Linked DNA regions of Homo sapiens: region 1 is linked to region 2. A link means that fine-mapping ties the variant in region 2 to the expression of a gene that starts in the linked region. Tissue or cell type: whole blood. Region 2 holds a variant in brackets; the other region holds the start of a gene. All regions are shown on one strand. Distances are between the middles of the regions.

What was found. PIP is the estimated chance that this variant, and not a neighbour inherited with it, causes the effect.
Region 1: it holds the start of GRN, and the variant in region 2 is fine-mapped to the expression of GRN in whole blood (TOPMed, PIP 0.96).

What each region holds. Positions count from the first base shown.
Region 1 is chr17:44,343,905-44,346,404 of GRCh38, reverse strand. GRN (granulin precursor) reads right to left here and starts at 1,103. Exons shown (of 13, transcript NM_002087.4): 1 at 1,071-1,103. RefSeq lists enhancers at 831-980, 2,132-2,500.
Region 2 is chr17:44,272,392-44,275,147 of GRCh38, reverse strand. LOC105371790 (a long non-coding RNA gene) reads left to right here. Exons shown (of 4, transcript XR_934778.4): 3 at 753-870; 4 at 970-1,113. Among named protein-coding and RNA genes, the nearest start is that of SLC4A1, 5.6 kb to the right of the region's middle. The variant C/T (reference allele first, on the strand shown) is at 1,526.

The DNA of each region.
Region 1 (2,500 bases), 71 kb before region 2:
AGGAAATCTCACCCACCCAGTCACTCACATCCTCTCTGCTCCACCTGGCTTTCCTCAAGTGCCCCTCCCCTAACTCAGCATCCCCAAGAGGCCACCTCCTGGACAGATAAGGATGAAGTTCACTGGTCCTGGACAGTGGACCCTCTCCTCAGCCCCACAGCTCCCAGGCAAAGCACCTGCAGCTGGCACCGCCTGCTTCCTGGGTGTTCTCAGCAGGCTGTCCGCTGCCATGGCTTGCTGGGAAGGGGAGTCTGTCTGCACAGGAGTGTTCGGCTCCCTGGTGAATTACCTGTGCATGTGGCCCCTCCTGTTTACCCTAAATTGAGGGAGTATAGTGTATGCTTCTACTGAATACAAGCACTCGCATACAGAAACAGGGATGAGGAGGCGAGTCGCAGTCTCTCATGCCACCCTACACCGCCAAAACAGCCAGAGGGGACAGCAGCCTCTTCAAGACCCTAGCTCCGTTATCTTCCACTAGGTGGCACCCCCCAACTCCGAGTGCCAAGGGGAGAGGAAATTCCCAAAAGGGGAGCCAACCTAGCTGCAAATGAGCAGGAAAAAGTGGCTGGGAGAGGCGGAAGCTAGCTCGTCCCACCCGCAACAAGAGGAAGTAAGGAGGAGCCAGACCAGGTTCAGTCACCACTCCCAAGTCCCTACTACCTTCGAGAAGCCAAGGTCTCAGGTCTCGTTCCCAGGCCCTCGGAGCTCCCAGCCCAGGGTCGCGCGCCCCTCCGGCTCCAGGCCGCCGCGGGAACCACCCACCACCACCAGGAGAGGGGAAGAAGCCAGCACCTACCGACAGGGGTGGAGCTGGGTCAAGAATGGTGTGGTCCCTGCTTTGGGGGAATGCTGGGGAGGTAGAAAGCCCCTTCTAACGGGGCGTCACTGCAATTACTGCTTCCTCTTTCCCATAAAACTCCCCCTAGTGTATCAGAACCCCCAAGGAGTTTCAGTAAGCGGTTCTTCTGTTGTCTCCGGCTGAGACTCCAGGGGAACCTCAAGCTCACATGGCCCTGGCGGGCCCCTGGGCAGGAGCAGGCGAGAGGTCTGCGCGGCCGCTCTCCTACCTGCGTCCGACTCCGCGGTCCTTGGGCAGCAGCAACCGGGTAGCGCTCAGACTACAGACCCCAGCGCGATGACCCGCCTACCTCAGTTTCCATTGGCCAGGGATCAGGGCTACCCGCTCCCATTGGCTACTTATCAATATAGAGGTGGGGCCAGCCTGGAATGCTGTGTTTCTTTTCTACTCAAATCACTCTCCTCCCTGCTTCCTCTCGCCCCACACCCCATTTCTAGGGATCATGTGATTGGAGAATCATGTGACGTCGGGACAGCCTCAGCAGGGCAGCTGGTGCTCGTCGCCTTCCTTAACCCATCCTGCAGGCGCCTGGGGGAGTTTGCTAGAGATGATAGCGCGTGTCTGGGGCATTGACAGTGCGAGGGAGTGTTATGAATTGGGAATATTTGTGCTCGCCTTTCTATCCTTTTGTTTGTTTGTTCTGAGACGGAGTCTCACTCTGTCGCCAGGCTGGAGTGCAGTGGCACGATCTCGGCTCACTGCAACCTCTGCCTCCCGGGTTCAAGCGATTCTCCTGCCTCAGCCTCCCGAGTAGCTGGGACTACAGGCGCGCACCACCACGCCCAGCTAATTTTTGTATTTTTAGTAGAGACGGGGTTTCACCATGTTGGCCAGGATGGTCTCGATTTCTTGACCTCGTGATCCGCCCACCTCGGCCTCCCAAAGTGCTAAGATTACAGGCATGAGCCACCGCGCCCGGACTTGTGTGTTTGTTTTAGAGACAGGGTCTCGCTCAGTCGCCCAAGCTGATCATAGCTCACTGCGGCCTGCAACTCCTGCTCCCAAAGCGATTCTCCTACCGCAGCCCCCCAAGGCGCTGGGATTACAAATGTGAGCTACTGAGCTGGCTCGCTCCTATCCTATCCTGCCCTGTCTTGTCCTGTCCTGTCCTGCCCTATTCTGCCCTATTCTCCAAACTCGGTTGACATGCTAGGCAGGCCCCAGAGTGAGTTGAAGGATGGTTTCCAGGACAAAGATAAACAGCCCCAAAGCCCTTTCCTCAAGGTGCTCAGCAGGACAGGGAGCAGGGATTGGTGGGAGACAGTCTCAGGCTGAATCTAATTTAAGATACAAGGTTGTGCGCCAGTTGCCAGGTGTAGGGAGAGGAAGTAGATTGTCTCCAGGTGGGGAAGAAGAGATTTCATTCCACCTTAGGAGCATCTCCTTGAGCTGAGTCTGGGAAGATTTTAACTGGCAGGTGGAGGAGGAGGTGTTGGGAAGAGCCCTGGGAAACCAGATGGGAAGGGCAGGCTTGGCAGGGATTGAATGCCATGTTCAATGCCAGTGGGCTTCAGGAGCTGCTGGGTGCCTGGCACGGGCTGGGCTGTGGTGGGGGCTGTCGAAAGAGAAGTGGCTTCCTAGTCTCCAGATCGGCCCTGCCTTCGAGGAATTGATATGGGAGGGTGAGGAGAGAAAATG
Region 2 (2,756 bases):
ATGAGCTGTTATTGGAAGTGGGGATTGGGAGTGAGGGAAAATTAAGAGTCAAGGAAGCAACTGGGTTTGGGGATTTGAGGAACCAAGTGGATGGAGAGGACTGGAGGAGGCTCAGGGTTTGTTTCTTTGCTTGCTTGTGTTTAGGGAAAGGATTCGAATAAAATAAGACTGTTAATGTATCACTTGTTTGACCTTTCTCAAATATTAGTTTTCTTTTCTTTTTGAGGCATGGTCTTGCCCTGTCACCCAGGCTGGAGGGCAGTGGCACTATCTTGGTTCACTGCAACCTCCACCGCTCAGGTTCAAGCAATTCTCGTGCCTCAGCTTCTCGAGTAGCTGGGATTACAGATGTGTGCCACCATGCCTGGCTAATTTTTGTATTTTTAGTGGAGATAGGGTTTCACCATGTTGACTATGCTGGTCTCGAACTCCTGACCTCAAGTGATCTGCCCGCCTTGACCTCCCAAAGTGCGGGGATTATAGGCATGAGCCACTGCATCCAGCCCAAATATTAGTTTTTTCACCTATACTTTTGGCAGTGGGGTAAGGGACAGAATTTTTTTTAATAGAGACAGGGTTTCACTGTGTTGCCCAGGTTGGTCTCAAACTCTCGGTCTCAAGTGATCCTCCTGCCTCAGCCTCCCAAAGTGCTGGAATTACAGGCATGTGCCACTGCACCCGGCAAAGGGACGGATTTTTGTATTGATTTCATTCAAGTCAACAAACTCATATAAACTATCAACTACCGGCAGAGCCCTGGTCAGGTTTAAGGACCTGAGTGAGGGTCCTTGTCCTTGGGAACATGATCTGTGGAGGAGACACACAGGACCATGGACCATCTCAGTAGGGAGCAGAGAGGCAATGACACAGGTAGGTGCTGGGCTGGGACCTGTCAATCTCCAGGGGTTGGAAGGTTGGCGGGAGAGAAGGAATTCACAGAGCTGGGAATGCAAACAATGAACCTTGAAGGTCAAAGCTTTGGTCCAGCAAGTTTGGAAAGGAAAGGCATCTCAGGACAAGGGAACAGTGCATGGAAAGATCCAGAAGCCAAGAGAACAGAGAACATTCAGAGAAAGGTGAGTGTCAAGACTCAGAGAGCTCACAGCCTGCCTTGAGCCCCTCAAGCAGATCCTCCTCCCAGGACACCCCCGCACACTGAACTCTCTGCAGAGCCAAGCTGACCCCACAGCTCTCCAAACCTGCCCTTGTTTTTGTTTTTTAAATTATTGAATTTATTTATTATTATTTTTTGAGATAGGGTCTTCCTCTGTTTTACAGGCTGGAGTGCGTGGTAGGATCTCAGCTCACTGCAACCTGGGCTCCGCCTCCTGGGCTCAAGTGATTGTCATGCCTCAGCCCTCTGAGGAGTTGGGATTACAGGCATGCGCCACCACACTCAGCAAATGTTTGTGTTTTTAGTAGAAACAGGGTTTCACCTTGTTGGCCAGGCTGCTCTCGATCTCCTGACCTCAAGTGATCTGCTTGCCTCAGCCTCCCAAAGTGCTGAGATTACAGGTGTGAGCCA[C/T]CAAAATAGTTATTTATTTTCTTTATTAGAGACAGGGTCTCACTCACTCAGGCAGGAGTGCAGTGGTGCCATCATAGCTCACTGCAGTCTTGAACTCCTGGACTCAAGCGATCTTCCCATCTCAGCCTCCCAGGTAGCTAGGGCTACAGGCCTGTGTCACCACACTTGGCTAAAAAGGTAACTTTTTTTTTTTTTACTTTTTGTAGAGATGGTGTCTTGCTATGTTGCTCAGGCTGGTCTTGAGAACTCCTGGCTTCAAGGAATTCTCCCACCTTGGCCTCCCAAAGTGCCGATTACAGGCCTGAGCCATCACACTGGCCCAAACCTGCCCTTTGACCTCCCTCCTCCTCCCATTTGGAGAAACCGCCCCCATCCTTCAAAGTCCTGCTGGAACTCCCACTTCCCCTCTTCCTCCTCCTCAGCTCTCAGGGGACCCTGCAGAACTCCCAGCGTGTATCTCTGGAAGGATGCTCAGGGTGAGTTATTTTTGCACAGATCTGGCCTGGCTGCCCCTAGACAGTAGAAACCGCCTTCCTCCCAGGACTCCCCAGGGCCCAGCCGAGGGTGCTGGTGATGAGGGTCACGGGGCACAGGGTTCTGAGGGTAGGGGGACTGGACTGGCTCAGCTCTGAGAGCCTTTCCAGTTCCAGCCCCATCCCCCAGCTCTCCCGCCTGATTCCCCGCACCTCCCCACTCCCTCACCAGGTGATAATGATGACTGGTCCATTCCTAACGTGTGTGCACCCTGCCCCACTTCCATCCACCCCCAGACTGCTCAGGGCTGCACCTCACAACTCTGGGCCCTCCACCAGCATGGTCTCCCTGGGGACCTCACACTTCCCGCATTACTTGTCCCTCCGGGCCCATCCCTTGTTTACATCCCTTATCCTCCCTCTGAGGTTTGTATACACTCCCTGCTGGACATGAACTCCTATCGCTGCGTGGTCCCTGCCCTGCTGCCTTGGCTCAGGCTGCCTGATACACGAGCCCCGTGGCTCCTTCTCCCGTTCACTACTCAGCCCCTTGCCTGCATCTAGAGAAGACTATTTTCAAGCTCTTTCCCACCTGTCATCCCATGTGGTCACAACAGTCCAGAGAGGAAAAGGAAGTCCAGAGAGAGGGTGTGGTCAGCTCAAGATCACACAGGGCTTCCAACCCGAGGAGGTCCTCTACAGCCCACATGTCCCAGCCGTGGGACACTTCCCTTTAATGCAAAATCCCAGGGGTCTGA